Regions from separate parts of the Homo sapiens genome. Here regions 2, 3 and 4 are each linked to region 1. Evidence: fine-mapped expression QTL. A gene starts in region 1. Each other region holds a variant in brackets. All regions are shown on one strand. Distances are between the middles of the regions. Region 1 holds the start of RNF216 (ring finger protein 216). Region 2 has its middle 33 kb from the start of RNF216. Region 3 overlaps RNF216 (ring finger protein 216). Region 4 has its middle 22 kb from the start of RNF216.

Region 1 (8,105 bases):
TGGCTGCAATGTGTAAGATGGCATGTAGGAGACAACCGGTGCCAGGAAACAAGAGCCAACAGTACCTAGGGGGAGGAGAAGAATACAAGACACTGACTGCAGAGTTAGAGTCGATGGGATCTGTGTATGTCACTGGCCATCAGGGCAAGAAGAAAGGAATCAAAGTTGACCTAGACGCTGAGATCAGGTGACCACAGGATGGTGATGCTATTAAGGAAGAACAAAGCAGATGATGAGTTCAGAGAAAGAAAACGAAAATTGTGTTAACTTTAATATGTGGACAAAATATGGTAAAATAACATCCATCATTATGGATATAAATATGCAAACAATTAGTCTAGAGTTTAACAGCTCTAAGAATCCTATTATCTGTGTATTTTTACAATAGGAAAGGTTTTAAATCAAAAATTAAACTCAAAATCTTCAGTGGGCGGGCTAAACAATTTAACATAAAACATCAAGATTTTCTTCAACTGTCCAATGAAAATTAGTTTAGAAACTAGGACAGATAAGTAAGTACATCCTCATGTGTGGAGGGTAAAATCAACGTTTTCAACGATCTTTTTAGAACTGAATCTTCTGTGACCAAAGGACATGCTTCTGCTTCTAGCCCAAGTACTGCCTTGCAGGCTCCATCCCTTGACATGTTTTCATACGGCATTTGAGTTATTTCTTTTAAACCACAAATCTCACCATGGTGAAACCGAAATCCTTACCATGGCCTACAAAACGCTACCATCACCTGACCTTGCTGACATAGCGGGCCTTACCTCATACCTTTTCCCCCCGCATTCACCATTCAGTAGTAACAATGGTTCAGTTCCATGACTTGCTCCTTCCTTCCACTGCAGGCTCTTCCCCAGCTAAACTACTCTTCTTCACTGCCTCTTGGACCAAATTAACTCTATTCATTGTTCGGTTCTTTGCTTTCTCCTCAGAGAAAAATTGTTCCTGATTATCCCCTAGATGTTCCTCCCTGGTTCAATCACACAACGTACCTCATTTCTTCAAAGTACTTCCAACAATACTTTAATATACTTATTTAGGAAACTATGTGTAATTTTGGTCTCCTCTGCTAAAACTTAAGTTCCAAGAAGGCAGAACCAAAGTGTCACTTGATCCCAAAGCCCCAGGACATAGCATATCGGATGGCACAGTAGATGATCTTCAATAGTAGATGTACTTTCAGAATAAATAGCACTCACTAATTATAGAAGGATAATTAGTGGCATGAACTCTGGGTCCAAACTGAGTTCAAGTTCCACGCTGACCCTTACAAGTTTTGGGACTAGATATTTTTCAGCACCTCAGTTTCTTTTTTTAAAATTATTATTATTTTTGAGACGGAGTCTCGCTCTGTCACCCAGGCTGGAGTGCAGTGGCACAATCTCGGATCACTGCAACCTCCGCCTCCCGAGTTCATGTGATTCTCCTGCCTCAGCCTCCCCAGTAGCTGGGATTACAGGCGCACGCCATCACACCTGGCTAATTTTTGTATTTTTAGTAGAGACGGGGTTTCACCATGTTGGCCAGGCTGGTCTCGAACTCCTGACCTTAGGTGATCTGCCCGCCTCGGCCTCCCAAAGTGCTGGGATTACGGGCGTGAGCCACACCATTCCCAACTATGTTCTATTATCTTTAACAATAATGCAAATATAATGATATCAGGTATGAGAATGAATTATGTCTCTAAAGAGCTAGAATATAGCAATGCCTAGAATTTTGTAAACACATTAAATAGTAGCTGGTAGTAGAATCAGCAAATACCAGCTCTCTCAACTATCCTATTCATCAACTTTCGATCTGCCTCACTCACACCTAACCCTTCTTTATCAGATTTCTCCACAGGGGCTTCAGGAGTTCTCTTTTATTAGCTGCTGCTGCTCTAATCAGGGTAAAAATCTAAAGCCTCGAATGAGGTTTGCCAGGGGGTCCAAAATCTGGCCCAGACTCTCCAGGCATTTCCTCAAATCCACCACTACTCCCCACACCCCAGGCGCAATAAATTATGAAATACAAAACCAAGGCAAAGCCAGGCCATGTATTAGCCTTCTTCCTTAAAGCAAGCCGACTAAATTGAGATGTTTCATAGAATCTTCCCGCTTCTCTCCCTTCTCAGCGCGTAAAGAATGTTCTGGCAGAGCACGGTGGCTAAAGCCTGTAATTCTTGTGCTTTGGGAGGCTGAGGGTCACTTAAACCCAGGAGTTGGGCAGCACAGCTAGACTCCGTCTCTTAAAAAAAAAAAAAAAAAAAAAAGTTAGCCGAGCGTGGTGGTGCGCGCCTGTAATTCCAGCTACTCGGGAGGCTGAGGCAGGAGAATTACTTGAAGCTGGCAGGCGGAGGGTGCAGTGGGCAGAGATGGCACCACTGCACTTTAGCCTGGGAAATACAGCCAGACTCCGCCTCAAAAAAAAAAAAAAAATGCTCAATGAATGGGCTGGGGTGGGTGGGGCAGAGAGGAGCTGACGGGACATACTACATCTAAAACGCCACTGTTTCCGAGGGACGCGGATATGCTCTGGTCCCCCACCTACATCCCATTCAGTAAACAAAGGTACCCACCGAAACATACAGCAGCACAAACCCATTTTTATAAGACCCTGTGCCTGACTATTGCAGGAAGATGGAGGACAAACAACAGCTGGAGAATAGATGAGCTGATGTTTGGCTCCTAACCTCTAAAACAATGCCAACCCAGCCCCTTCCAGGAGTAACAGCTTGAAAACAATACATGGCATTTAGATAGTTTTTAGCATTCCTGGCAATTCCGTTACTAATTCATGGGTCTTCCTCACAAGGGAAGAAACCCCATTTTTGAGGCACAGGCCCACCAGGGCAAAATGACCTGGCCAGGCTGGAGCCAGGTGCATGTGAGGGCCACTGTGAGGCCCTCTGCTCTGCTCACCCTCTACGTCACAGTGCTTCTTCTGTAGGTGAACGTGTGGGTTTTCAGCCAGGGCGCTTCTTACTGAAGGGCCCGAGGGTCCCGGAGAACATATCTGAAACGTCTTTTGAAAAGACTGTAGCACTTTGGGAGGCCGAGGCGGAGGGATCACCTGAGGTCAGACGTTAGAGACCAGCCTGGCCAACACGGAGAAATCCCGTCTCTACTAAAAATACAAAAATTAGCTGGACGTGGTGGCAAATGCCTGTAATCCCAGCTGAGGCAATCCCTGTGAGGCTGAGGCAGGAAAATCGCTTGAATCCGGGAGGCAGAGCTTGCAGTGAGCCGGGATCGCGCCACTGCACTCCAGCCTGGGCAACAGAGCAAGACTCCGTCTCAAAGAAAAGGAGAAAAAAAAAAAAGTAAAAGAAAAAAGAACGTTCTCTTTGCACGATCTAAGTACCTAGGACAGCTGCTACCCAGGCCCTTAGGGATTTACAGAGCCCTGTCGGATTTGTCAGAAATTTCTGTAACCCGCACGCCGCGCACGCTCCAGGGTTGGTTGCAAGTGGCCCAGAGTCTTGGATCCCTGGTCCTGTTCCACCGGGAGCAGAACCACCTCGACGCGGGGACAGCGGCCTCGCTCGCTGCCCAGCGCCCGGACACCCGAGCCGGGCCAGCCCCCAGCGCCCCGCAGAAGGGTTTGACGCACTTGCGGCGCCCTCGCGAGTGCCGGGTGACAGTCGCCAACTTTCGCGGAACACGCGCTCCAGATGTGAGGGAAGAGGAGGAAAAACGCCGCCCGCCTGGGCTGGGGTTCACAGGCACGGCCCGCCTCCCGCCGCTCCTCCAGGCCGCGCTCGGGTGCACGGACACCGCCTCCGCGGCGGCCTCGGGCCCGGGGGAGGGAAGCGCGGTCTCCCGGGCTGTTGCCCTCGCGCAGCAGACCCGAGGGGCCGGCCCGCGAAACTTCGCGAAGTGGCGAGAGGGGGCCACCCGGCCGCTCAGCGCCTTTGTCGCTCCAGCCTCGCCACCGCACCGGGCTCGAGACGCCCAGCCCAGCCCCTTGGCCCGATCCCGCCCGGGCCTCGGCCCGCGCCCCTCAGCTCGGCGGCCCTCACGGCCCGCGCCCCCGCCCCCACCCCCGGAGCTCCACAGAGGCGCCCCTCAGAGAGGCCGCGTCGCCTCACAGACCCGCCCAGGAGCTCGAGCGCGCCCCGCAGCCGACACTCACTCGTCACTCAAGTCGCCGGCTAGCCAGGCAGGTTCGGCGGCCTTCGCTACCGCGCCGCTTACTCCTCAGAAGCCGCAGCTGCGAGCTCCGTGGCAGCCGCTGCACTCCTTCCGGCCCTGCCGCGGCGTCACCTCGCGCCTGCGCACAGCGCCCCCTCCCGACTAAGGACAGGAAGAACCATAGAGGCACTCCGGGTACTGCGGAGGAGGGACCGGGGGGCTCACCATAGAGAGGGCCGCCTAGTCGCGCCTGCATCCGGGCTCTCCGCCTGCGGAGACTTGACTCCCCCACGAGGCAGGAGGGTGAAAGGAAAGGAGACCCCCATATCCGACCCCACAAGGAGCCACCATCTCCCCAGAGCTGAAAAGGGTATGGGGCAGGTGGTTGTGGATGTTTACTCGATATCTACTGATTTGCCCTAATTCGTTTGGCAAGTCATTCATTCATTCTGCAAATATATTCTGCGGATTTCCTGTGGGCCACACACTGTTCTAGGAATTGGGGAAATTAAGAGTAAAGTGGGTCCCATGGCTGGGCACAGTGGCTCACGCCTGTAATCCCAGCACTTTGGGAGGCCAAGGCGGGTGGATCACTTGAGGTCAGACGTTGGAGACCAGCCTGGCCAACATGGTGAAACCCGTCTCTACCAAAAATAAAAAAATTAGCCAGGCATGGTGGCGGATGCCTGTAATCCCAGCTACTCAGGAGGCTGAGGCGGGAAAATCACTTGAACCTGGGAGGCGGAGGTTGTAGTGAGCCAACATGGCGCCCCTGCACTCCAGCCTGGGCAACAGAGCAACCCTCCATCTCGAAAAAAAAAAAAAGTAAAATGTGTTCCTGGCCTCAGGAAGTTTAGGTTTTAGTGAGCAAGTGAATAACTGACTAAAATACTGCTCCTGCTGGGCACAGTGGCTCATGTCCATAATCCCCGCGCTTTGGAAGGCCAAGGCAGGAGGATCGCTTGAGGCCAGGAGTTCAAGACCAGCCTTAGCAAAATAGCAAGACCCCAACTCTTAAAATAATTGCTGGCCAGGCGTGGTGGTTCACGCCTGTAATCCCAGCACATTGGGAGGCCGAGGCAGGCAGATCACTTGAGGTCAGGAGTTCGAGACCAGCCTGGCCACCATGGTGAAACCCCGTCTCTACTAAAAATACAAAAATTAGCTGGGCATGGTGGTGCGTGCCTGTAATCCGAGCTACTCGGGAGGCCGAGGCACAAGAATTGCTTGAACCGAGGAGGGGGAGGTTGTAGTGCAGTGATTATGCCACTGCACTTCAGCCTGGGTAACAGAGTGAGACTGTGTCTCAAAAAAAAAAAAATTGCCAAGTACACCTTCAAGTAGAGATATCAAGTCAGTAATTAGATAAATGAGTCTGGGCTGGGCATAGTGGCTTATACCTGGAATCCGAACATTTTGGGAAATGGAGGTGGGAGGATGGCTTGAAGCCAGGAGTTTGAGACGATCCTGGGCAATAGAGTAAGACCCCATCTTTACAAAAATAAAAATTAGCCGGGCATGGTGGTGCGCACCTATAGTCCCAGCTACTCAGGAGACTGAGGTGGGAGGATTTTTTTGTTTTGTTTTGTTTTGTTTGTTTTGTTTTTTTGGACAGAATCTCACTCTGTCAGCCAGGCTGGAGTGCGGTGGCACGATCTTGGCTCACTGCAACCTCCACCTTCTGGGCTCAAGCGATTCTCCTGCCTCAGCCTCCTGAGTAGCTGGGATTACAAGCATGTGCCACCACGCCCGGCTAATTTTCGTATTTTCAGTAGAGACAGGGTTTCACCATGTTGGCCAGGCTGGTCTTGAACTCCTGACCTCAGGTAATCTACCCACCTCGGCCTACCAAAGTGCTGGAATTACAGGAGCGAGCCACTAAACCCGGCCAGAGGATTGTTTGAGCCCAGGAGTCCGAGGCTGCTGTGAGCTATGATTGCACTGCTGCACTCCAGCCTGGATGACAGAACAACAGCCTGTCTCAAAAGAAGCAAACAAAAACAAAACAGGGAAATGAGAGGAACAATAGTCTTGATGCGGCAATGAGTGTTCCTTCTCTAAGACAGTAGAGTGTGGCTTATGGGGGCTTGCATGGGACAGAAAAAGACCACTACTCATAGTGCTTTGGGGAACAGTGTCCTGAGGGAATAGTCATGTTTCAGTGAAGTAGAAATTGAAGGGCTGCTTACAGAACAGGACGAGGATCTAGGGATCTTACAGATGTCAGGCCCTGAGTTAGAGGGTGCAGTGCATGGGAGACATTAGAGGGTGAACAGGAGAGAGAGTTTAAGATAGATACTTACCTGAGATGAGATCCTGGAATCACCTGGAAGGTAAAACAAAGGCATTGGCCTTGATGAGCTTATCCTCCATGCTGGTCCTCTTGGGGGAGGTGGATAATCGCTGTCAGTTACAGCCTTCTTCTTAGGATGGTCCTCATAAGCCCTTTGAGATGTTGGAAGAAAGCAGTATTGGAAGGAGAGCTTGGTGATCTTAGCAGGAGTGCAAGGTTCTTTCCGGACCACTGAACCCCTCTGTGGTTGGTGTCACACCCAAGGCAGGTGCGATCGAGTAACCTCTCTGAGTCTAGCTTTTTTTTTTTTTTTTTTTGAGATGAAGTCTTGCTGTGCCACCCAGTCTGGAGTGCGGTGGCGCGATCTTGGTTCACTGCAAGCTCCGCCTCCTGGGCTCACGCCGTTCTCCTGCCTCAGCCTCCCGAGTAGCTGGGACTACAGGCGCCCGCCACCAAGGGCTAATTTTTTTTTGTATTTTTAGTAGAGATGGGGTTTCGCCGTGTTAGCCAGGATGGTCTCGATCTCCTGACCTCGTGATCCACCCGCCTTGGCCTCCCAAAGTGCTGGAATTACAGGCATGAGCCACCGCACCTGGCCTGAGTCTGGAATTTTTTATTTGTTCAGGCTTTTTGGAGACTCTGACTCAGACGTGATGGCAATGAGAAGAGAGACTTTATTTTTGTCTTTATTTATTTATTTTTGAGACGGTGTCTCCTTCCATCGCCCAGGCTGGAGTGCAGTGGCACGATCTTGCCTCACTGGAACCTCTGCCTCCCAGGTTCAAGCGATTCTCCTGGCTCAGTCTCCCAAGTAGCTGGGACTACAGGCACCCACCATCACACCCGGCTAATTTTTAAAATATTTTTTGTAGAGACGGGGTTTCACCATGTTGGCCATGCTGGTCTCAAACTCCTCACCTCAGGTGATCTGCCTGTCTCAGCCCAAAGTGCTGGGATTACAGGTGTAAGCCACCATGCCAGGCCTTTATTTTGAAGTTTAATTTAAAAAAACATTAATAGATAGCCAGGTGTGGTGACACATGCCTCTAGTCCCAGCTACACAGGAGGCTGAGGCAGGAGAATCACTTTAACCCAGGAGGCAGAGGTTGCAGTGAGCCGAGGTTGCGCCACTGCACCCCAGCCTAGGTAACACAGCAAGACTTCGCCTCAAAAAAAAAAAAAAATTATAGAAACAGAGTCTCGCTTTGTTGCCCAGGGTGGTCTCGAACTCCTGGCTCTAAGTGATCCTTCCATCTTGCCCTCCTAAAGTGGTGGGATGGCAGATGTGAACTGCCATGTCTGGCGGGGAATTTTTTATTTGTAAAATGGGAATTTTAAGATATTATCTATTGCCCGGTGTTCTTGCAAGGATGAAATGGGATCATGTGTGAATTGAGAAGCTCTCATAGGAGTTATTTGTTTACATGCTCTTCTTGTCTTAAGCATTTTCGGAGTCATAAAGACAACTATCATATCTCTGCATTTTTCCCAGTGAGGGCGAGAGGAAGCTACTCCCTCCTTCTAGGTTGTCTGGAATCATTCTGGTTACTTTTGAACTGGAATCATTCTGGTTACTTTTGAACTGGAATCATTCTGGTTACTTTTGAAGCCTCTGGCCTTTTTTTTTTTTTTTTTTTTTTGGAGACGGAGTTTCACTCTTGTCGCTCATGCTGGAGTGCAATGGCATGATCTTG
Region 2 (8,105 bases), 34 kb after region 1:
TTGCTAAGGTAATTACAGGCATCCTCACCCTCTTGATCAGGGCTGGCTTTGCCATAGATTTTAGCCATGGATAAACTGAGCGTGAGGTCTTGGGTGCAGACAGAGAAGGAAGAATAAGCTTTGTGTGAAAAGTTTCAGAGGAAGTTTGCCTTTTCTTTCTTTCTTTCTTTCTCTTTTTTTTTTTCAGATGGAGTCTCACTCTGTTGTCCAGACTGGAGTACAATGGCGTGATCTCAGCTCCCTGCAGCCTCTGGCTCCCAGGTTGAAGCGATTCTCCTGCCTCAGTCTCCCAAGTAGCTGGGATTACAGGCGTGTGCCACCAAGCCCAGCTAATTTTTTTTATTTTCACCATGTTGGCCAGTGCTGGAACTCCTGACCTCAGGTGATCCACCTGCCTCAGCCTCCCAAAGTGCCGGGATTACGGGCGTGAACCATCGCACCCGGCCAGAGGAAGTTTTTTTAAAAAAAAGTATACTTGCTGCTTGACCTGGGCGACCTCATGGTGACAGCTAGCAGAGTGGACAGCATGATTACTTGTGTCTTCAGGGAAGTGGCCGGTGACTGCTGTTTCGCAGGGGCCTGATGGTCTGATGGGTAGATGGCTTGCCCAGAACCGCTGGCTGGCAGAGAGACCCAGAAAGTTTGAGTGCTCTGGGACGTATCAGAACCTTTCCTATTTGCAGTCCAAGGGGAAGGGGATTGAGTGAAAAGAGACATGAAGGAGCTTTCTGGGAGCATGGACACTGCTGTATCCTGATTGTGTTTCATTTACATGGGTGTCTAAACCCATCAAACTGCACGCTGAGGTCCTGTGTGTTCGCATACAATGTACAGTTCATCAATAAAAGCAATCCTTTAGCTCTTCTAGGATGAGAAGGGAGGTGAGGGATGGGCGATGAGGACAGAAGTGGGAATGTGATGATCTTCCTGCCTCAGCCTCCCAAACTGCTAGGATTACAGGCGTGAGCCACCATGCCCAGCCTATTTACTTTTAAGACAGAGTCTCACTCTGTTGCACAGGCTGGAGTGCAGTGGTGCAATCATAGCTGACCGCAGTCTTGAACTCATGGTTTAGAGGAGGTTTGCTCAAGCAATCCTCCCACCTCAGCCTCCCAATCAGCTGGGACAACAGGCATACATCACCATGCCTGGCTAATCTTTACATTTTTTGTAGAGATGGGATGTCGCTGTGTTGCACAGGCTGGTCTGGAACTCCTGGCTTCAAGTGCTCCTCCCACCTCAGCCTCCCAAAGTGCTGGGATTGCAGGCCTGAGCCACAGCGCCCCACCAAGACTGGAGTTTTGAACTACAGTGGTTTCCCCTCTTACTAACAGTCAGTTAGCCGAGGTCAACCGCAGTCCAAAAATACTAAATGCAGAAAAGAGAAAGCAATCCTTCAGACTAGGCAGGGAGAAAGCAGCCTTGAAGAACCACTGGAGAGCAGCCTCTCCTGTCTCTGAACAAGACTGTTTCACGTGCTAGAGAGCTGGCTTAGCATTTGCTACAGTGTGCATTCCCTGCTTTTGGGGGGCAGGGCATGAAGCTTGGGCTTGGGTTTCATACACACGACCCTGCAGGAGCCTCTGAGGATGTCAGTGCCAGCCTCACCCTCCTTTGCCCTCAGTCCAGGCCATCTGAGTTTCTTGTTCTCTTTCCTTCCAGGACTGGGACACAGTGTCCAGAGAGCATAGCATTGGAGTAGGAGTTTGGGAAGCAGATTTCTAGTCCCTACCTGGTATGGTTAGGGTTTGGGTCCCCACCTAGAATCTCATCTTGAATTGTAATCCCATAATCCCCACGTGTCAAGAGTGGGACAGGTGGAGGTAAACGGATCGTGGGGGCAGTTTCCCCCATTCTGCTCTCGTGATAGTGAGTCTTGAGGTGTCCGATGGTTTTATATGCACTGGTATTTCCCCTGCTTGCACTCACTCCATCCTGCTTCCTGAGAAGGTGCCTGCTTCTCCTTTGCCTTTCACCATGACAGTAATTTTCCTGAGGCCTTCCCAGCAATGTGGAACTGTGAGTCAATTAAACCTCTTTCCTTCATAAATTACCCAGTCTTGGGTTTGTTTATTTATTCTTTTTTGTTTTTGTTTTTGAGTCCGAGTCTCACTCTGTTGCCTAGGCTGGAGTGCAGTGGTGTGATCTCAGCTCACTGCAACCTCCGCCTCCTGGGTTCAAGCGAGTCTCTTGCCTCAGCCTCCAGAGTAGCTGGGACCACAGGTACTTGCCACCATGTCTGGCTAATTTTTGTATTTGTAGTAGAGATGGGGTTTCACCATGTTAGCCAGGCTGGTCTCGAACCCCTGACCTCAAGTGATCTGCCTGACTTGGCCTCCCAAAGTGCTGGGATTATAGCCGTCAGCCACTGAGTATTTCTTTCTTTTTTGAGACTGAGTCTTGCTCTGTTGCCCAGGCTGGAGTGCAGTGGCGCGATCTCAGCTCACTGCAAGCTCCGACTCCCAGGTTCATGCCATTCACCTGCCTCAGCCTCCTGAGTAGCTGGGGACTACAGGTGCCCACCACCACGCCCGGCTAATTTTTTTGTATTTTTAGTGGAGACGGGGTTTCACTGCGTTAACCAGGATGGTCTCTCTCTCCTGACCTCGTGATCCACCTGCCTCGGCCTCCCGAAGTGCTGGGATTACAGGCGTAAGCCACTGTGCCTGGCCGAAGGGTATTTCTTTATAGCAGTGCGAGAACGGACTAATATACTACCTGGCCACTAACTTACTGAACATTGGCTAAACAATCTGGGCTACAGTTTCCCCAGGTGCAGAACAGGGTTAGTTGCTCTCTCAGGGCTACCATGAGGGGACAAAGCTCACTGGAGGTGTCCTGTATACAGAGGTGAAACAGGTGCTCTGCAGAGGAGACAGGAGGCTGCCTTATGATTAAAAAAAAAAAAAAAAAAAGGGCAGGGGGTTGTTGAAAAAACATTGGCAGCCACCAGGCAGTCAGGAGCCTCCATGGCTTATATTTTTGGAGGAATCAAGAAATTCATCTTGGTGGCTCACACCCGCAGTCCTAGCACTTCGGGAGTCTGAGGCAGGAGGATCGCTTGAAGCCTGGAGTGTAAGACCAGCCTGGGCAACAGAGTGAAACCTTGCCTCTACAAAAGATACAAAAATTAGCCAGGCATGGTGGTGTGCGCCTGTAGTCCCAGATATACTTGGTAGGCTGAGGTGGGAGGATCTCTTGAGTCCAGAAAGTCGAGGGTGCAGTGAGCTATGATCGCGCCACTGCACTCCAGCCTCAGCAACAGAGTGAGACCCTGCTTCTAAAAAGTGAAAAGGAAAACACTGGAATATAAAAATGTATTATTTATATGTAATATATAATATGTATTTTAGGCCCAGTGCGATGGCTCACACCTGTAATCCTAGCATTTTGCGAGGCTGAGGTACACAGATCACTCGAGGTCAGGAGTTCAAGACCAGCCTGGACAACATGGTGAAACCCCTTCCCTACTAAAAATACAAAAAAAATGGCCAGGCACAGTGGCTCACGCTTGTAATCCCAGTACTTCGGGAGGCCGAGGCGGGCAGATTGCCAGGTCAAGAGATGGAGACCATCCTGGCCAACATGGTGAAACCTCATCTCTACTAAAAATACAAAAATTAGCTGGATGTGGTGATGTGCACCTATAGTCCCAGATACTCGGGAGGCTGAGGCAGGAGAATCACTAGAACCTGGGAGGCAGAGGTTGCAATGAGCCAAGATCGCCCCACTGCACTCCAGCCTGGGTGACAGAGCGAGACTCTGTCTCAAACAAAAAAAATTAGCCAGGCATGGTGATACATGTCTGTAATGCTAGCTATTTGGGAGGCTGAGGTGGGGAGATCACTTGAACCTGGGAGGCAGAGGCTGCAGGGAGCCCAGATTGCCCCACTTTACTCCAGCCTGGGTGACAGAGCAAGACTCTCAAAAAAAAAAAAAAATGTGGCTGGGCACAGTGGCTTCTACCTGTAATCCCAGCACTTTAGGAGGCCGAGGCAGGCAGATCACGAGGTCAGATCAAGACCATCCTGGCTAAACGGTGCAGCCCCGTCGCTACTAAAAATACAAAAAATTAGCCAGGGGTGGTGGTGGGTGCCTGTAGTCCCAGCTACTCAGGAGGCTGAGGCAGGAGAATGGTGTGAACCCGGGAGGCGGAGCTTGCAGTGAGCGGAGACTGCGCCACTGTACTCTAGCCTGGGTGACAGCAAGACTGTCTCAAAAAAAAAAAAAGATATTATCCGTTACATATTACATATGACATAAACTATATATTTATAATATGAACTATGATGTAAAGATCTTTATAATATAAAACATTTTATATAATATACAGTATTATAGTATATAATACAAACCATATTATATAAAA[TATATA/T]ATACAAACGATATCATATAAAATATATTTTGTAATTTATATATAAATAGCTTTGTATTTATATGTTTTTATATAAATATGAAAATCTGCTGGGTGTGGTGGTGTGTGCCTGTAGTCCCAGCTACTTGGGAGGCTGAGGCAGGAGAATCACTACAACCTGGGAGGCAGAGGTTGCAGTGAGCCAATATATGTAATATATATAAACATTTATATTACATATAAAATATATTATGCAATATATTACATATAAATAACATTTTACATTACATATATAATTTTTTTTTTCTGAGGCAGAGTCTTAACTCTGTCACCCAGGCTAGAGTGCAATGGCGCTATCTCAGCTTGCTGCAGCCTCCACCTCCTGAGTCAAGCGATTCTCCTGCCTCAGCCTCCAGAGTAGCTGGGATTATAGGCACCTGCCACCACACCCAGGTAAATTTTGTATTTTTAGTAGAGACGGGGGTTTCACCATGTTGGCCAGGCTGGTCTCGAACTCCTGATCTCAGGTGATCCACCCACCTTGGCCTCTCAAAGTGCTGAGATTACAGGTGTGAGCCACCGTGCCTGACCTATTTTATATTTATATTTTATATATCTATATTTTTATATTTTACATACAAATATATTTTATATTATAAATATATATATATTCGTTATATATAATATAAAATATCAAACCATGGAGACAATGTTAAGCATCTTCCTAGTACATGCCCCTGATAAAATGCCATTTTTCCTGTTATTTTTTTCCCAGTGGAGACGTGGAAACAGGATGGCACAGAAGACGCGGAATGAGCCAGTGCGGTTAACAAGAGGAAGCACATGAATTGGAAAGTTCAGTGAGCTCTTGTTTAGATAATAGGATCCATATATCACTAGTGATATTTTCCTTCATTCTCTTGTGATCCATAGATTCCTTCTCCCTCTCTTCCTTTCCTCCCTCCCTCTCTCTGTTGGCATTTTATTTGTAGAAAAAAGTGTAGAATTTGTTACACCCTGGATTTTGCAGATTGTCTCATTGTGGTGTCATTTGACATTTTTCTACTGCCTTGTATGTCCTGTAATTTGTTAATTAGATCAAGAGGCTTAGACTCAAGTTCTTTTTTTTTTCCAGGATTACTTATAGGTGATGTTGTATACAGCCATGTAGATGGACAGGGTGTCTGGTTTTCTTATTTTTTTCAAAAAGATGTCAGCAGTCATTGGTGATCATTACCTAAGGGTGTTTTTGTTTGTTTTTGAGATGGAGTCTCGCTCTGTCACTCCAGCTGGAGTGCAGTGGCACAATCTCAGCTCACTGCATCCTCCGCCTCCCAAGTTCAAGTGATTCTCCTGCCTCAGCCTCCCCAGTAGGTGGGACCAACGATATTAATAATCATATTGCATGTGAATGTCTTAGTATGACTTTATATGATTGATAGTAGCAGGATGATACTTTATGTTTACATTGATTTGTTACAACATACGTTTATTCTGCTTTTCAAATAAATGGAAAAAATGAACATCTATAAGCAGGGATATATATATATATATATATATATATTTTTTTTTTTTTTTTTTTTTTTTTTTTTTTGAGGCAGAGTCTCACTCTGTGGACTGCAGTGGTGCGATCTTGACTCACTGTAACCTCCGCCTCCTGGGTTCAAGCAATTCTCCTGCCTCAGCCTCCTGAGTAGCTGGGACAACAGGCATGCACCACCACGCCCCACTAACTTTTGTATTTTTATTATTTATTTATTATTTATTTTTTTTGAGATGAAGTCTTGCTCTGTCACCCAGGCTGCAGTGCAGTGGCACAATCTTGGCTCACTGTGCAACCTGTACCTCCCAGGTTCAAGCAATTCTCCTGTCTTGGCCTCCCAAGTAGGTGGGGTTACAGGTGTCTGCCACCACACTTGGCTTATTTTTCTTTGTTTTTGGTAGAGACAAGGTTTCACCATGTTGGCCAGGCTGGTTTTTGAACTCTTGACCTCAAGTGAGGTCTGCGTCAGCCTCCCAATGTGTTGGGATTACAGGCGTGAGCCACCGTGCCCAGCCAATAAGCAGGGCAATTAGAGTCCTTTGTCTCCAGCCCTATGCGGCATATCCAGGCAGCTATTACTGCTTATTATTTCTTTTCCTATCCCTAGAACAGCAAAGGTTTATCCTTTGGTGAAATGGGAGAAAATGAAAACATTAACTTCAACACTATGCGTAGTTTAACTCAGGTGGGAGGGAACTCCTGGTTAATATCACTTGTCTGTTTCACCTGTCCCCCCGGCGTTCCCTGCGTCCTATCTTTTCCCTGTGGTGGAGACCGCTGGTTATTTCCCAATATCTGTTCTCTCCTTCTAATGCAATAGAGCCTTCAATTTTTAGCTAGGAGTTGCCCTCCCAGAATGGAGACTCCATTTTCCAGCCTTCTTTGTAGATGGAGGTGGCCACGTAACTGAGATCTGTTCAATGGGATATGAGCAGAAGTGACTTGTGCCTTTTCTGAATCAAGCTCTTAAAAGAAAGGGCATTTGGGCCGGGTATGGTGGCTCATGTCTGTAATCCCAGCACTTTGTGAAGCTAAGGGGGGCAGATCACTTGAGGTCAGGAGTTCGAGTCCAGCCTGGCCAACATGGTGAAACCCTGTTTCTGCTTAAAAATACAAAAATCAGCCAGACATGGTGGCAGGTGCTTGTAATCCCAGCTACTCAGGAGGCTGAAGCAGGAGAATTGCTTGACCCCAGGAGGTGGAGGTTGCAGTGAGTGGAGATCCCACCACTGCATTCTAGACTGGGCGACAGAGCGAGACTCCATCTCAAAAAAAAAAAAAAAAAAATTGGGGTGGGGGGCATTCTGTCCCTTCCTTTTCCCCTCTTACTGCTGGCTGAAATACAGACCTGGCCATCTTGAACCATACCTGCTCTAGGGATGGTAGAGCAGTTTTTTTGTTTTGTTTTGTTTTGTTTTGAGACAGTGTCTTGCTCTGTTACCCAGACTGGAGCGCAGTGACATGATCATGGCTCGTTGTAGTGCTTTGACGTCCTAGTCTCAAGCAGTCCTCCCATCTCAGCCTCTGCAGTAGCTGGGAGTACAGGTGCATGCCAGCATGCCCGGCTAATTTTAAAAAAATTTTGATACGGAATCTTGCTCTGTCGCCCAGGCTGGAGTGCAGGGGCACGAACTCGGCTCACTGCAAGCTCCGCCTTCCAGGTTTACGCCATTTTTCTGCCTCAGCCTCCCGAGTAGCTGGGGCTATAGGCGCCTGCCACCACGCCTGACTAATTTTTTGTATTTTTATTAGAGACGGGGTTTGACCATGTTAGCCAGGATGGTCTCGATCTCCTGACCTCGTGAGCTGCCCGTCTCAGCCTCCCAAAGTGCTGGGATTACAGGCATGAGAAAAACGTTTTTTAGAGATGATGTCTTGCCATGTTGCCCAGGCTGATCTTGAACTGGGCTCAATCAATCCTCCCACTGTAGCCTCCCAAAGTGCTGGGATTACAGGTATGAACCACCAGGCCCAGCTAGAGCACTCATTTGGGAGTCTAGTTTTCTGACTTCTTTGGAGCCACATGGATTTTTTTTTATGAGAAATAATCACTGGTGATTTCTTTTTTATTTTTTTGAGATAGTCTCACTCTGTTGCCCAGGCTGGGGATTAGTGGCATGATCTTGGCTTACTGCAACTTCTACCTTCTGGGTTCAAGCAGTCCTCCTGCCTTAGCCTTCCAAGTAGCTAGGACTACAGGTGTGTACCA
Region 3 (8,105 bases), 89 kb before region 1:
ACCGAAGAGGTAATTAGAGCAGTAAATAAGCAGCAGCTATTCCTGCTCTATGTCCTGGATTCCCACAGTTGGCTGGTGGGGACACCAGGCTTTCACGCACAGAACTGTGTAAAACTGAAAGCATTTCAAAAATGATTAGTCTTCTTTCGATTACTTTTATATTGAGAGAAAAAGCAGAGTAGAAAGCTGTTAAAATGTAACTAGACAGTAAATTGAGCCAAGGTAAAACCTGTACATAAAAAAACAGACTCACATATCTGGAAATCATAAACAAGGGGCTGCTCTATTTCAGACAAACCGCATGTCAAAGGAAATTGCCCAGCTACACCTCTTTTCTATCCTAAAGCTTTTTAAAAAAATTTAAATGTTCGTATCTCTGTTGACACTAGTGAAAAGAAGAACACATACTGAATGTGCTAAGAAATACAGAAGTTATTATAAACAAAAAGCAAAAACTCCCCTCTTGTCAAGCCTTCCTGTAGCAGTTTGTGTTTCATGCTTAGGTTTTGAAGAAAAAAGTTAAAGGCGCATGTATTTACCAGCTTTATCCTTTACATTTATACAAAGTGAGCAGAAGGCTCACTCTGCGCACCTTACCTTGCTTTACACATCTGACAGTGTATCTTCTGGAGACTTCCTTATCCATACTTATTATCAGGCTTGTCTTATTTTTTTTTGGACTGGGATATCTGTAAAACTGTGGGTGACTTAGGATTGGGCAATTCTCAGTTTATTTAGCTTTCTTATTAGTGAAAGAGTTGCTCTTAATAATATGATACGAATTCCCAAATGATGATAACAGCTACTAACATTACTGTGCAAAGCACTGTGTTCTTCAATATAAAGTTTAAGTCTGAACTCAAATGTTGACTGAATGAGAGAAGCGGGAAAAATATTCACAAAACTAGGTAAAGGAAATACTCCTTTTTCTTCAAGTGGATCTGAGAAGCCTGGCATCTTACTTGGTTCTGCTGTGGCTTCCTCTCTCATAAAAGAACAGGCTGCCGATTCTGTGAAACAAAATGATATCCTATTATATGGCACCACCATCAGTGCCTTGTGAGCCAATATGCAGAACCAAAAGCACAGGAGGGAGGTGGAAGGGGGTCCTGGAGTGCAGCGCTAAGGGTCTGGGGAGGTGGATGCTTGACGGGGGCAAAGGGCAGGCCTGGCTCCAGAAGCTGATATGGCAGCATTTTGGCTAGTTTGTGAGGTATAGGAAAAGTGACAGAAGTTACGCTCAGTTTTTGTAACCATGACTCACTCCAAGACTTTCTCAACAATAACCATATTTGTAGTATTAAAAAAAAAAAAAAAAAGAAAGAAGAAGAAAAGTGAAAGGCAAAACATCCAAAGCCGAGGAGGCAGGGCGCCTAGAAACCCACATCCCTTCTGTTGTCAAGTGATCAATAATTTCCCACTTTCTGGAGGCCATTTTCTAAAAAAAAACAAAAAACAAAAAACCCTAGGCTTGTAGTCAAGTAGTTTTCCTTTTCTCTTGGACTTCCTACAAGTTTTTAAAGCATAAGAAATGTAGTTTTAGGGCTGTAATTACATGATAGACTTGAGTAAAATCATTTAGATATGCAGAGTTTAATAAATAGTACAAAGGCCAGGCATGGTGGCTCACGCCTGTAATCCTAGCACTTTGGGGAGGCCGAGGCAGGTGGATCACCTAAGGTTAGGAGTTCAAGACAAGCCTGGCCTGCGTGGCAAAATTCCGTCTCTACTAAAAATGCAAAAAAATTAGCTGGGTGTTATTCCAGCCACTTGGGAGGCTGAGGCAGGAGAATCACTTGAATCCAGGAGGCGGGGGGTTGCAGTGAGCCAAGATTGCGCCACTGCATTCCAGCCTGGGTGACTCTGTCTCAAACAAAAAAAAAAAAAGAACAGAAAAGAGAAGAGAAGAGGAGGGCAGGTAACCCCCCTTATTTGCCGAGTTCACCTGTATTATATTTTACTTACATCTTTAAAGGTTTTATGGCCAGGCGCGGTGGGTGGCTCATGCCTGTAATCCCAGCACTCTGGGAGGCTTAGGCGGGCGGATCACCTGAGGTCAGGAGTTTAAGACCAGCCTGGCCATGGTGAAACCCTGTCTCTACTAAAAATACAAAAAATTAGCCAGGCATGGTGGTGCACACCTGTAATCCCAGCTACTTGGGAGGCTGAGGCAGGAGAATCTCTTGCACACAGGAAGCGGAGGTTGCAGTGAGCCAAGATCGCGCCATTGCACTCTAGCCTGGGCAACAAGAGTGAAATTCCATCTCAAAAAAAAAAAAAAAAGATTTTAAAGATCCTTTTTACTTCCTGTTTCTCTAAAAGCATGGTTAGCAATGCTCAGAAGCTAGGTCAGTTTTGGTGACTGACTGCTTTGTTAAGGTTTCCCAGGTAGTATTAAAGACCTGGAATCTATCAGCTGCTGCCACAGAATGAAATTCTCCTCTCCCTGCACCATCTACCACTTAGACCAGGGGAGGAGGCGCCACCTTCACCTCCCCTAGAAACTTCAGCAGCTCCCATCAGCAGTGCTTTCCCTGTACATCTGCAAGCATCACATAACCCTAAATAGTAAGCAGGACTGGCACTGTTATCCCATTCTACAGAAGAGCAAACAGAAGTCCACAAAGGCAGTGGGAAGTGCCCAGGGCTAGTGAGAGGTAGAGTGAAGATCTCGCCCTTCTCTGCTGATGCTCCTGCAATACAGCCCACACTAGAGCTCATGCCCCGACAGCCTGCAGGGATGTACACACGCATGTTCTGCCAGGACAGCTCTGCCACACCAGCCTGACACTTAATAACACATACGCACATGTGTAAAATGTACACATTCATCATGGAATTGCGATTTGGGGGCTGAAGACAACCTACAGATGAGTCAACTTGGACCCTGTGGTTCAGGGCTTATCCAGCACACAGCCAGGAGAGGCTGAAGCTCCACCTCCACACACCCCCTGCAGCACCTTTTCTGCCTGTCGTCTCTTCCCAGCTCACACAGCCGTGCAAAGAACTCTGTTCTCACGGGTTGATCTGCCATGTTTTTAAGTTCCGACAGAAGCACACCCATTTCTCTAACCGTGTGTGTAGACGGTGAGCCTGGGTGATCAACGTGACAGCACTTCTGCTCATGCCAACAGGGTGCTCTGCCAGGTCTACCCATGGTGAAGGGGAGACAAGCCACCTGACACCTCGCCACTCGGGCCGACGGCAGCATTTGACTGCTAGGACACTGTCTTGTGACCCACTTTACTCACTGCTCCTTACTTCTCAGTTATAAGCAGTAATTAGTAATGTCAGTGTTCCTGTTCTGGCTGGATTGCTCCTGGCTGGATTGCTCCAGGCCCATTAATGATACAAGAGCAGGAACAGATGAATGCGTAAGTGTACAAGAGAGGTTTCAAGGTTAAAGGCAGTAATGGAGAGAGCTATGGTGGGGGTGGGGAAGGCAGTGCTGGTGTGTGTAGAAGAGAAGGGGAGAGGGGGAATGTGTGTGTGAGAAAAACAGAGTATGTGTGTTAGTTTTAAGTCTATTCTTTAAAATGCCCAGCTTCTCCTTAGGGGCAACATGTATGGCAAAGCACAACTTCTTAGCGTCCTCAATCAAGTGAAGTAGAATCTTCTATCTGGCATGGACACATGGTTCTGGCCACCCGGCAGGGAGTCCATCAGTACTAACTCTAGACACCGGAGAGTTACTAGTGTATGAAATTGAGGTCAGAGGAAACTACACCAATATCTTTCAAACATATTTTCGATGTTTTAAATAACTTCTCTTACAGAAGGCAATGTCTGCTTGTTCAGCAGAACTGCTACCTTCCCACTTAATGCTTTTACAGCGGAAGTCAAGACAAGTAATGAAAGACAGACCCCAGGGGCCGACAGTCAGGCCCTCCTACTCTAGTGGAAGAGATACAATACTTTATATTGTTACAATTGCCTCTGCATACCTACAAATCTCCATGTTTTCAAGGAGGGATTTCAAAAGGTATAATTTCCGACATTCCTACCCAGAGTTTTGCTGAAAAATAGAATGACAGCAAGTAAGCCCGCAAATCATGCCTGGAAAAGGCTTAGCACGGCTATTTGAAAAATATTTGCTTGGGAGCTGGAAGAGGGAACTATGAATCGAGGCTGGCAGCCAAATGGGAATTTTTTAGTTGTTTATATGTACACTGCCTTCTAAGCAGACAAGGATTTGCCACTAAGCCTTTTACTTGTTCCTCACATACCAAAAGCTAACTGTTACACATACTAGGAAAGTAACAACTTTATTTGCTGATTTCACAACCCAAAGCAGACATTTTTAAAAAGCGGTCATAGCAACGCCGGGTGAATCAGAACCCATCCTTGTTAGTCAGACATACTCTGTGGGAAAAGGCAGCAGTTGGAAACAGTCTTGAATTCTAACTACTAAAAGCCATACTAATTCCCGCGGGGCCCTGACTTCTGGTCCAAGGTTTCTCACTGGCTGTATCCTGTCCGACAGTGCCAGAGCTTGTGCTGCAAGCAGAGCCCGTGCAGAAGGCGAGCGAG[G/A]AGAAAGGCAGAGCTGCTCAGTTCCAGCTCCTTCCACACACCACAAAACGCCATCCCTCGCCTCCAGCCCGAGGCAAGGCACTCCTTTTTAGGTGGTAAAATAAGCCTTCCAACACACCAGAAGAAATAGCTTGGAGTTTGAAAATACACAAGCATATTTTAATAATCACATTTCTATTTTTCAAGTTCTCTTAATACAAACAAAACAAAAATTCTTTTGCTCATGTTCAGACATGACTAAGTTAATGACAATGGGTATACAATGTGACACATGCACACTCCTCCCTTAACCCTTGGTGAGCATCCTCAAAAGCGATTCACTGCTACCCATTTCTTATCTATCCTTCCAAATAGATTTTATGTCTGTGTCAGCAAGCATCTCTTCCTCCTCCCATTTAAGACACAATTGTGGGCATATTGCACCCATTGTTCTACGTCTTGCTTTTTTCACTTAATATCTTGGAGACAGCTCCATATTTGCACAACGGGATTCCACGTCATTCTTTTAAACGCTATGGTATATGCTACGGGTTGGCAAACTACAGCTCACTGGCCAATCTGGCCCTCTGCCAATTTTTGTAAATATAATTATACTGGGACACAGCCACATTCATTTGTTTACATATTGTCTGTGGTTACTTTCACGCTATAAAGGCAGAGTTAGGTAGCTGGGATAGATACCATATGGTCCGCAAAGCCTGAAATATTTACTACCTTGCCTTTTACAGAAAAAGTCTGCTGACCCCTGGTATGGATGTTTACAGAAAAAGTCTGCTGAACCTCAGTATGGATGCTGACCCCCCGGTATGGACCTCCACTGTACTGAGGTACCAAAATGTACTGAAATTGTTCCCTGCTGATGGGTATTGCATTGGATTTCCTTAAGAATAAAATTAAACTCCTTTAATGCTAAGAAGCTCCAAGACATTTGAGGAAGGAAAGAGCAGGAACTAGCTAGGAAGAAGCCGGCATGAAGAAGCCAAGCTTAAAGAGGGAACTTCAGAGCAAGCTACAACCTCCCCAAGTGTCAATTCCTCTTTTTAGAGGAAGTAAGAAGGGAACTGTAGGTCTTTTGATAAGAGGAAATTCCCCTTTGCTATATCAAAGCTGCTCCCTGTGCTTGTGTTGTTCTAAAGTTAGGCAAGACTGCCTGAAGCATACTGTGACCAAATTAGGAAGCAAGAAGGCTGATGTCTCTAAAGCTGGTCACCCATGGCCAGGCAGCCCAGGCATGCAAAGACAGAGATGGACGCGGGTAGAGACTCTCTGGCCAACAAGGAGATGCTATTTGCTTAAGAAATCAGCCTTAAAAATGACACAACGAAAATTAATAACTGTTCTATAAGATGGAATTCACTTGCTGTTGTTGACCAAAAAAACAAAGGCTTCCAACATTTCCACAAGCAAAGAACATGAGAGAAGCACAGTGAGACGAATGCTCCCAGGCATCATGGGTTTATTCCAAAGGCAGTAAAGGTCTTGGAAAGTGCCAAGGAAATTATACCACTTAGCTCTTTGATAGATCAAGATAGTCAGTTTTACACTATTGAGAAAAGAAGAATCCAGAAAGGTCTTACTAAAAAGGGCATTTTGTAAACTTTCCATTTTAGGACGGCCTACTCAATTTCTTTATTTGCTGGAACAGTTTTCAAACAAGTCTTTCAGCTTCAAAACAAGGTCTAGGTATGCAGTACTTGAATCATTCACACTGAGCTTGCTTCCGCCACTGCTACTCAATGATATTCTCTTTAAGGAATGACTTCTGAGTTAACTTTTGATTCAGATCCAATGAGCTCAGAATCTATTCTGACCACGAGCACTATCTGGGTAATAACATTTGACCTTGAAATCCCTGCTTTCCTCCAAAACTTCCAGATCAGCAAGATTCTTGGACACAATTTTTATTCCCTTGGCAATGTGCTTAGTTCAGTTCCAACATCTGCTATGAGATCAGACAGTCAGAATTAAGGTAAGTTTAAACGACAAAACAAATCTCAGTTCTTGTTTATAGGAAAACCTTCAAGGGCTCCAAGCCAAAGGATGAGGCCCACTTGTGGCGCAATTTGAGGACCTGCCTGCCCTGGAGCAGAGATGTGTATGGTGGCCATGCCCTTCAGCCTATGGAAAGTACATTCTCTGTAGCTGCGTAGCTTGTGTTGGGCTGGTCTCCTGGTCTGCCAGGGTGCACTGGGCAGAAATTTTACAGCCACTCTCTCAAAGTGTTCTAGGTGTTGTCAAAATAGCTAAGCATTTGTCTACTAACTACTCCTGTTTTGATTTTGAACATTTATTTATAATCATCTAAAGGACCCAAGCATTTTATAGAAAAGACAATATACTTTCCAAAGACCCTGGTTAACTGACATACAAATCCACCAACTAAGAACTGTATTTCTATTAGTTAAGGCTTCTGTGGCTCAACTTTAACTGAGCCAAAAAATACACTAATGGGCCAATGGGGACACAGATGGGTTAGGGAACTACCCCTGAACCCAAAGTTCATATATAGCCAAGAAGTTCAATGACTTCAAGCTACACGAAGTTAGCACTTAACCTATCCACGGTTCTTCATCTGTACAACAAGCATGTCTGGGTTATATGACCTCCTGGGTCCGGCTTATAAATCTAACATCTACAACTGCAAGTCAAGAGTACCAAATACCAATATACAAAACCACCTGCGCAGACCCAGTGCAGCAACTTGTACCAAGGTTTGAACCACACATTCACACGTCCAGCAGCCACAGAGACGAAAACGACACGCCAGCCTGTCCTGACCTCACACTCCCCAGTCTGAGGGCCCGGCAGAAGCGCCACATCGCCTTCCTCTCCTGTTTTTTCTTATGGCTGCTGCTGCCTCGGAGCCCGGACTAAGCAAGGCTGTTAGGCACGGGGTGAGCACGGTTGCGCCTACTGCTGAGAGTGCCTCTCCCTGCCGGTCTCCTGCTCTCTCTCTGCAGAGCAGAAGACACCGCAGCTATAGACAAGTTCTATTGCCCTTTTATGGTAGAAAAATGAATTGCTTGCTAGCAGTGGTGCCGAGAGAGATGACAGAATGGAAAGTTGTCATTTGTTGTGGTTTTGGCAGCCACAGAATAGTGTTCTCCCCTAGTCATCCTCGGATGGATGGTGCACACCAGGCATTCACAGAGGGAAAAGCAAAACCCCTGGTCAAACTGTTCCCTTATGTGTTCTTCCCTTGCTTTGCCTGTAAACGGATGTGTTTATTTATGAACAGTGTCAAGCCCCATTGTGGAAATGTACTTTTTACAAAACAAGGTATCAAAAGGCTGTTTGTGTTGCACTGAAAGACTAAGCAGAGGTGCCACAGAAAACATGTTTCCCGTCAGAACGCATCCAAGGAACAGACTTCATTTCCTCACACAACAAGGATGTAGGACTAGGCTGGGAAGGGAGGGTACCCCACTTGAAGGAGGGGCTGTGGCTCTCAGCACAACCCAGCACGGCCTTGATCCCTGACTCCCAGGAGGCACGGAAGGACAAGAAAGCAGCCACCAGCTCCAGACAAATCCAGCCCAAGGGGAAACACACTGACATCCACAGTCCATGTGGTG
Region 4 (8,105 bases), 22 kb after region 1:
TTAACACAAAGCAATTTTTGTGGTTTTTTTTTGAGACGGAGTCTTGCTCTGTCGCCCAGGCTGGAGTGCAGAGGTGTGATCTCGGTTCACTGCAACCAACCTCCTGGGCTCCAGCGATTCTCCTGCCTCAGCCTCCCAAGTAGCTGGGATTACAGGCACCTGCTACCACGCCTGGCTAATTTTTGTATTTTTAGTAGAGACGGGGTTTTGCTATGTTGGCCAGGTTTGTCTTGAACTCCTGGCCTCAAGTAATCCGCCCGCCTCAGCCTCCCAACGTGCTGGGATTATAGGCGTGAGCCACCATGGCCGGCCTGTTTACCAGTTTACTATAAGGGGCATTACGAAAAATGCAGAGGAATGGCCAGATGCCGAGGCCGAAGGGGCAAGTTTTGTGGGAAGGGGTGGAGCTTCCATGCCCTCTCTGGGTACACCACCCTCCCGGCATCTCCACATGTTCAGCATTGAAGCTCTCCGAGTGCTGTCCTTTTGTTTTGTTTTGTTTTTTTGAGACAGAGTCTTGCTGTGTCGCCCAGGCTGGAGTGCTGTGCTGTGATCTTGACCCACTGCAACTTCTGCCTCCCAGGTTCTAGCTTTTCTCCTGCCTCAGCCTCCCAAGTAGCTGAGATTACAGGTACCCGCCACCGCATCCTACCTAATTCTTGTACTTTTAGTAGAGATGGGGTTTTATCATGTTGCCAGGCTGGTCCTGAACTCCTGACCTCAGGTGGTCTGCGCCCCCCCTTGGCTTCGTAAAGTGCTGGGATTACAGGTGTGAGCCATTGCGCCCGCCAACTCCACATTTTTAAACAAAGCTTCTCTTCCTTAACCAATTAGAAAAAAAAAAAATCTTTGAATCTACCTATGACCTGTAAGCCCCCACTTTAAGATACCCCACCTTTTAGGGCCAAACCAACGTATAGCCTCCATACTGATTTATGACTTTGCCGTAACCTCTGCCTCCTTATCTTCTGTTTTTTTTTTTTTTTTTTTTTTGAGACAGAGTTTTACTCTATCACCCAGACTGGAGTGCGGTGGCGTGATCTCGGCTCACTGCAAGCTCCGCCTCCTGGATTCACGCTATTCTCCTGCCTCAGCCTCCCGAGTAGCTGGTACTACAGGCGCACGCCACCATGCCTGGCTAATTTTTTGTATTTTTTTTTTTTTTAAGTAGATACGGGGTTTCACTGTGGTCTTGATCTCCTGACCTTGTGATCCACCCGCCTCGAGTGCTGGGATTACAGGCGTGAGCCACTGCGCCCTGCCTCTGCCTCCTTACCTTTAAAGACGCCTACCTGCAAGCCAGCAGGGAGTTCTGGATGTAAACATGAGCTGCTCGACTCTCCTTGCGTGGCGCCCTGCAAATAAATGCCCTCTTTTTTCTCACTGCAAACCTTGGTGTGGGTGGTTGGCCTCACTGTGCCAGGCATCTGGACCCCATGAAAGTCGGTCCTTGTTTCCTCTCATTGATTTTTTTTTTTTTTTTTTGGGGGATGGGGTCTCACTCTCTTCTCCCAGCTGCTGGAGTGCAGTGGCACAATCTGCCCACTGCAGCCTCCACTTCCTGGACTCAGGTGATTGTCCCACTTCAGCCTCCCGAGTAGCTGAGACCACATGCATGTGCCACCACGCCTGGCTAATTTTTTGTATTTTTAGTGCAGGCAGGGGTCTTGCTATGTTTTCCAGGCTGGTCTCAAACCCCTGAGCTCAAGCGGTCCGCTCGCCTCGGCCTCCTAAAGTGATGGAGATACAGGTGTGTGCCACCGTACCAGGCCCAAGATGTTATCTTTAATTTCTATAGAGAACTAAATATCTGGTGACTGTAACTCCCTTGGCTATTGGTTTTAAGCTCCTTTTTTTTTTTTTTTTTTTTTTTTTTTGGAGACAGAGTTTCGCTCTTGTTGCTCAGGCTGGAGTGTAGTGGCGTGATCTCAGCTCACGGCAACCTCCGGCTCCTGGGGTCAAGCGATTCTCCTGCCTCAGCCTCCTGAGTAGCTGGGATTACAGGTGCATGCCACCACGCCCAGCTAATTTTTGTAGTTTTGTTTTGTTTTGTTTTTGAGATAGAGTAGTTTTTTTGCCAGGCTGGAGTGCAGTGGCGCCGTCTCGGCTCAGTGCAACCTCCACCTCCCGGGTTCAAGTGATTCTCCCTCCTTAGCCTCCCAAGTAGCTGGGACTACAGTGTGTGCTACCACGCCCAGCTAATTTTTGTATTTTTAGTAGAGATGGGGTTTCACCATGTTGGCCAGGATGGTCTTGATTTCGTGACCTTGTGATCCGCCTGCTTTGGCCTCCCAACGTAGTTTTTAGTAGAGATGGGGTTTTACCATGTTGGCCATGCTGATCTTGAACTCCTGACCTCAGGTGAGCTGTCTGCCGCAGCCACCCAAAGTACTGGGATTACAGCCATGAGTCACCGTGCCCGGTGGATTAAGGCTCTCATACGCATCTTGAGATCGGTTCCTTCTGGCTCTTTCATCCCCTCACAACCCTGTAGTTGCTTCTCTTGTAGTTACCCGCCATGATCCAATGCTATGTAATCGAATCCATGCTCAACACTTTGCTATAAGTGCTAGGCTCTCTCCTGTTGGAAATAAATAATTTCCTTTTTTTTTTTTTTTTTGGAGATGGAGTTTCGCTCTTGTTGCCCAGGCTGGAGTGCAATGATGCGATCTTGGCTCACTGCAACCTCTGCCTCCCGGGTTCAAGCGATTCTCGTGCCTCAGCCTCCCAGGTAGCTGGGATTACAGGTGCCCACCACCATGCCCGGCTAATTTTTTTGTATGTTTTTAGTAGAGACGGGGTTTTGCCATGTTGGCCAGGCCGGTCTTGAACTCCTGACCTCTGGTGATCCGCCCGCCTCCACCTCCCAAAGTACTGGGCTTACAAGTGTGAGCCACCACGCCTGGCCGGAAAGAAATATTTTCTGAGATTTATAAGCTTTTTTAAAAAATTAAGGGCTGGGCACAGTGGTTCACACTTGTAAGTGCAGCACTTTGGGAGGCTAAGGCAGGAGGATTGATTGAGGTCAGGAGTTGGAGGCTACAGTGAGCTATGATTGCACCACTGCACTCTAGCCTGGGAGACAGAGTGAGACCCTGACTCAAACAGTAATTAAATCAATAAAATTTAGAAGTTAAGATTCTTCAGCCTCTTTTGGGCTGGGCATGGTCGCTCAAGCTTGTAATCCCAGCACTCTGGGAGGCTGTGGCAGGCTGATCACTTGAGGCCAGGAGTTTGAGAC[C/T]AACCTGGCCAACATTGTGAAACCCCATCTCTACTAAAAATACAGAAATTAGCCGGTGTGGTGATGCATGCCTGTAATCCCAGCTGTTCAGGAGGCTGAGACAGGAGAATTGCTTGAACTCGGGAGGTGGAGGTTGCAGTGAGCTGAGAGCATGTCACTCTATTCCAGCCCGGGCGACAGAACTAGACTCCATCTCAAAAAAAAAAAAAAAAAGATTCTTCAGTCTCTTTTGATCTTCCTGTGCCCACTTTATGGTGCCCGGAGCTGCTGATGTTCAGATTTGCCATGGGCGGTGCTCCCCTACATCTGAAGATGCAAAGATCTCTCTTCTTCCTTGTCACCTAATCCTGCTGGCCTTCTCAGGCTCATCTGCAGAAGACCCCACTCAAAAGTAGGGTCTGGCCAGCTGCGGTGGCTCACGCTTGTAATCCCAGCACTTTGGGAGGCTGAGGCAGGTGGGATCACCTGAGGTCAGGAGTTCAAGAACAGCCTGACCAATGTGGCGAAACCCTGTCTCTACTAAAAAATATCAAAATTAGCCAGGCGTAGTGGTGGGCGCCTATAACCCCATCTACTCGGGAGGCTGAGGCTGGAGAATAGCTTGAACCTGGGGGTTGAAGGTTGCAGTGAGTCAAGATGATGCCACTGCACTCCAGTCTGGGTGAAAGAGCAAAACTCCATCTCAAAAAAAAAAAAAAAAAAGGGGGGGTCTTCTTCAGAAGATATGTTTGCATGATTTCCATGAGGAAGGCATGTGCTCTGTCCCTTTCTTCCCAATGCTCACTGCGTCTTTTTTTTTTTAATATATGTTTGCATGATTTCCATGAGGAAGGCATGTGCTCTGTCCCTTTCTTCCCAATGCTCACTGTGTCTTTTTTTTTTTAATATATGTTTGCATGATTTCCATGAGGAAGGCATGTGCTCTGTCCCTTTCTTCCCAATGCTCACTGTGTCTTTTTTTTTTAATATATGTTTGCATGATTTCCATGAGGAAGGCATGTGCTCTGTCCCTTTCTTCCCAATGCTCACTGCGTCTTTTTTTTTTTAATAGACTTGACTTTTTTAGGCCAGTTTTAGATTCGTAGCAACATTGAGCGAAAGGTACAGAGAGTTCTCACATGTTCCCTGCCCGTGCTAATAGCCTCTCCCATTATCATCTTCCACCAAAGTGGTACATTTGTTACAATCAGGGAACCTATATTGACATCATTTTCACCCAAAGTCCACAGTTTGCATTAGGGTCCCTCTTGGTGTGGTGCATGTCATGGGCTTGGATAAATGTGTCAGAACATGCATCCACTCTTAGAGCTCTCTCAGAGGCGTTTCCCTGCCCGAAAAATCCTCCGTGCTCTGCCTCTTCATGCATCCCTCCCTTCATGCATCCGTCCCAGGGACAAAAGGTTGTCCCTGGCAACCTTTTGTTTCCAGACCCTAGCAACGGATCCTTTTACTGTCTCCATAGTTGGGCCTTTTCTGAATGTAATATAGTTGGAATCATACAGCATTAATTTTTTTTTTCCACTGAGACAGTCTCGCTCTGTCACCCAGGCTGGAGAGCAGTGGTGCCATCATAGCTCACTGCAGCCCTAACGTCCTGGGCTCAATTGATCCTCCCGCCTCAGCCTTCTGAGGAGCTGGGACTATGGGTATGCGTCACCACGCCCAGCCAAGTGTCCTGGATTTTTTTTTTTTTTGAGACGAAGTCTCACTCTTATCCCCCAGGCTGGAGTGCAATGGCGCGATCTCGGCTCACTGCAACCTCTGCCTTCCGGATTCAAGCAATTCTCCTGCCTCAGCCTCCCAAGTAGTGGGATTACAGGCGCCTGCCACCATGCCCAGCTAATTTTTGTATGTTTAGTAGAGATGGGGTTTCACCATGTTGGCCAGGCTGGTCTCAAACTCCTGACCTCAGGTGATCCGTCCGCCTCGGCCTCCCAAAGTGCTGGGATTACAGGCATGAGCCACCATGCCCTGCCATGTTCTGGATTTTTGTCATCCTAATAGGTTTGTAGTGATATCATTGTTTTAATTTGCATTTTCCCAATGACATACGAAATGAAGCATCTTCTCATATGCATGTTTGCCACCTGTGTATCTTTGGAAAGATGTCTCTTAAGGTTTTTTGGCCCATTTAAAAATCAGGTTGTTTTCCTGTTGTTGAGTTTTAAGAGTTCTTTGTATATTTTGGTTAACAGTCCTTCTTTATCAGCTATGTCTTTAGCAAATATTTTCTCCCAGTCTGTGGCTTGTCTTTTCATTCTCTTGACAACATCTTTCAGAAAGAAGAAATTTTTTAATTCAATGAAGTCCAACTTAGCAATTCTTTTTTTTTTTTTTTTTTTTTTTTTTTTGAGATGGAATTTCACTCATTTCCCAGGCTGGAGTGCAATGGCACTATCTCCGCTCACTGCAACCTCCGTTCCCAGGTTTAAGCGATTCTTCTGCCTCAGCCTCCCGAGTAGCTGGGATTACAGGCATGTTCCGGCACACCTGGCTAATTTTGTATTTTTAGTAGAGATGGGGTTTCTCCTTGTTGGTCAGGCTGGTCTCGAACCCCCGACCCCTGGTTATCTGTCCACCTCAGCCTCCCAAAGTGCTCGGATGACAGGCGTGAGCCACTGCGTGCAGCCCAATTCTTTCTTTCATGAATCCCACCTTTGGCGTTGTATCTAAAAAGTCATTGCCAAACCTGAAGTTATCTAGATTTTCTCCTGTGTTACCTTCTAAAAGTTTTATGGTTTTGAACTTTACATTTAGGTCTCTGATCCATCTGAATTAATTCTGTGAAGTGTGTAAGGTCAGAGTCTGGACTCAGTTGTTTGCATGTGGATGTCCATCCAGTTGTTCAGCAACATTTGTTAAAAAGACCGTCTTTGTCTTTGCTCATTGTATTGCCTTTGCTCTTCTGTCAAAGGTCATTTGACTCTATTTATGTGGGTCTGTTTCTGAGATCTCTGTTCTATTCAATTGATCTATTTTGTTTTTTAAGAGACAGTGTTTCGCCATGTTGTCCAGGGTGGTCTCATTCTCCTGACCTTAAGTGAACCACCTGCCTTGGCCTCCCAAAGTGCTGGGATTACAGGCGTGAGACACTGCACCTGGCTCATTGATCTATTTATCTATTTTTTCACTAATATCACACTGTCCTGATTACCGTAGCTTTACAGTAAGTCTTGAAGTACCATCATACTTTATCAATTTCTCTGTGCCATTCCACCCTTTTTTTTTTTTTTTTGAGACAGAATTTCATTCGTTGCCCTGGCTGGAGTACGATGGTGCAATCTCAGCTCACTGCAACTTCCACCTCCCTGGTTGAAGCGATTCTCCTGCCTCAGCCTTCCAAGTAGCTGGGATTACAGGTGCCTGCCACCACTCCCGGCTAATTTTTTGTATTTTTAGTAGAGATGGGGTTTCACCATGTTGGCCAGGCTGGTCTTGAACTCCTGCCCTCAGGTGATCCACCCTTCTCGGCCTCCCAAAGTGCTGGGATTCCAGGCGTGAGCCACTGTGCCCGGCCTAGTTCCAGCACTTCTAACCTCATGTATTTTGATGCTTCTGTTAGGTGCATACACATTAGGGATTAATTATGTGTTTTTGGAGAATTGACTCCTTTATCATTCTGTAATGCCCCCCCCTTTTTTTTTGGACACAGGGTCTCATTCTGTCACCCAGGCTGGAGTACAGTGGTGTGACCATGACTCACTGAAGTCTGGAGCTCTCAGGATCAAGTGATCCTCCAGTTTTGGTCTCCTAAGTAGCTGGGACTACAGGTATGCACCACCATGACCAGCTGATTTTTTTTATTATTATTTATTGTAGAGACAGGGTCTTGCTATGTTGCCCAGGTTGATCACAAACTCCTGGGCTCAAGCAATCCCCCCAACCACCTTGGTTTCCTAAAGTGCTGGGATTATCGATGTGAATGGAACACCTGGCTGTAATGCCTCTTAAGCTCTGACAACTTTCTTTGCTTTGAAGTCTGCTTTGTTTAGTATTATCACAGTATGGCTTTCTCCACCTCTTTATTTATTTATTTATTCAGAGACGGCATCTCGCTCTGTCACCCAGGCTGGAGTGCAGTGGTGCCATCTTTGCTCACTGCAACCTCCGCCTCCTGGGTTCAAATGATTCTCCTGCCTCAGCCTCCCGAGTAGCTGGGACCACAGGTGCACACCGCCATGCCTGACTAATTTTTGTATTTTTTTAGTAGAGACGGGTTTCACCATGTTGGCCAGGCTGGTTTCGAACTCCCGACCTCAGGTGATCCGCCTGCCTTGGCCTCCCAAAGTGCTGAGATGAGAGGCGTGAGCCACCGTGCCCGGCTGACTTTTTAGAAAAACATCATCTACAAAGCTTCTGGATGTTTTTTCCATTTTATTATGCCTTGTAATTTTTTTCCCGATAACTGGACATAATTTATTGGGTAAAAGGAGCTGCTATAGATAGACCTGGGGGAGAGTGGTGGTAAGGTGTGGTGGGAGGAGAAGCCTTCTATAATGCTCCTCTGAGCAGGTTTTAATCTTTGTTTTAAATTACTATTTTTTAAAAAAGATGAGGTCTCACTATATTGCTCAGGCTGGTCTTAAACTCTTGAGCTCAAGCAATCCTTCCACCTCAACCTCCCAAAATACTGGGATTCTGAGCATGAGCCATTGTGCACAGCCAGATCTTTTTTTCTTGAGACGGAGTCTCACTTTGTCGCCCAGGCTGGAGTGCAGTGTGGCTATCTCAGCTCACTGCAAGCTCCTTCTCCCAGGTTCACGCCATTCTCCTGCCTCAGCCTCCTGAGTAGCTGGGACCACAGGCGCCCGCCACCACGCCAGGCTAATTTTTTGTATTTTTAGTAGAGACAGGGTTTCACCGT

Evidence for each region.
Region 2: its variant is fine-mapped to the expression of RNF216 in whole blood (TOPMed, PIP 0.93).
Region 3: its variant is fine-mapped to the expression of RNF216 in whole blood (TOPMed, PIP 0.98).
Region 4: its variant is fine-mapped to the expression of RNF216 in whole blood (TOPMed, PIP 0.93).

Annotation. Positions count from the first base shown.
Region 1 is chr7:5,777,422-5,785,526 of GRCh38, forward strand. It overlaps RNF216 (ring finger protein 216), which reads right to left and starts at 4,242. Exons shown (of 17, transcript NM_207111.4): 1 at 4,120-4,242. RefSeq lists a silencer at 3,651-4,040.
Region 2 is chr7:5,811,070-5,819,174 of GRCh38, forward strand. No RefSeq gene overlaps it. Among named protein-coding and RNA genes, the nearest start is that of RNF216, 33 kb to the left of the region's middle. The variant TATATA/T (reference allele first, on the strand shown) is at 4,370.
Region 3 is chr7:5,688,061-5,696,165 of GRCh38, forward strand. All of the region lies in intron 13 of RNF216 (ring finger protein 216), which reads right to left. Among named protein-coding and RNA genes, the nearest start is that of RNF216-IT1, 12 kb to the left of the region's middle. RefSeq lists enhancers at 7,156-7,395, 8,025-8,105. The variant G/A (reference allele first, on the strand shown) is at 4,531.
Region 4 is chr7:5,799,238-5,807,342 of GRCh38, forward strand. No RefSeq gene overlaps it. Among named protein-coding and RNA genes, the nearest start is that of RNF216, 22 kb to the left of the region's middle. The variant C/T (reference allele first, on the strand shown) is at 3,242.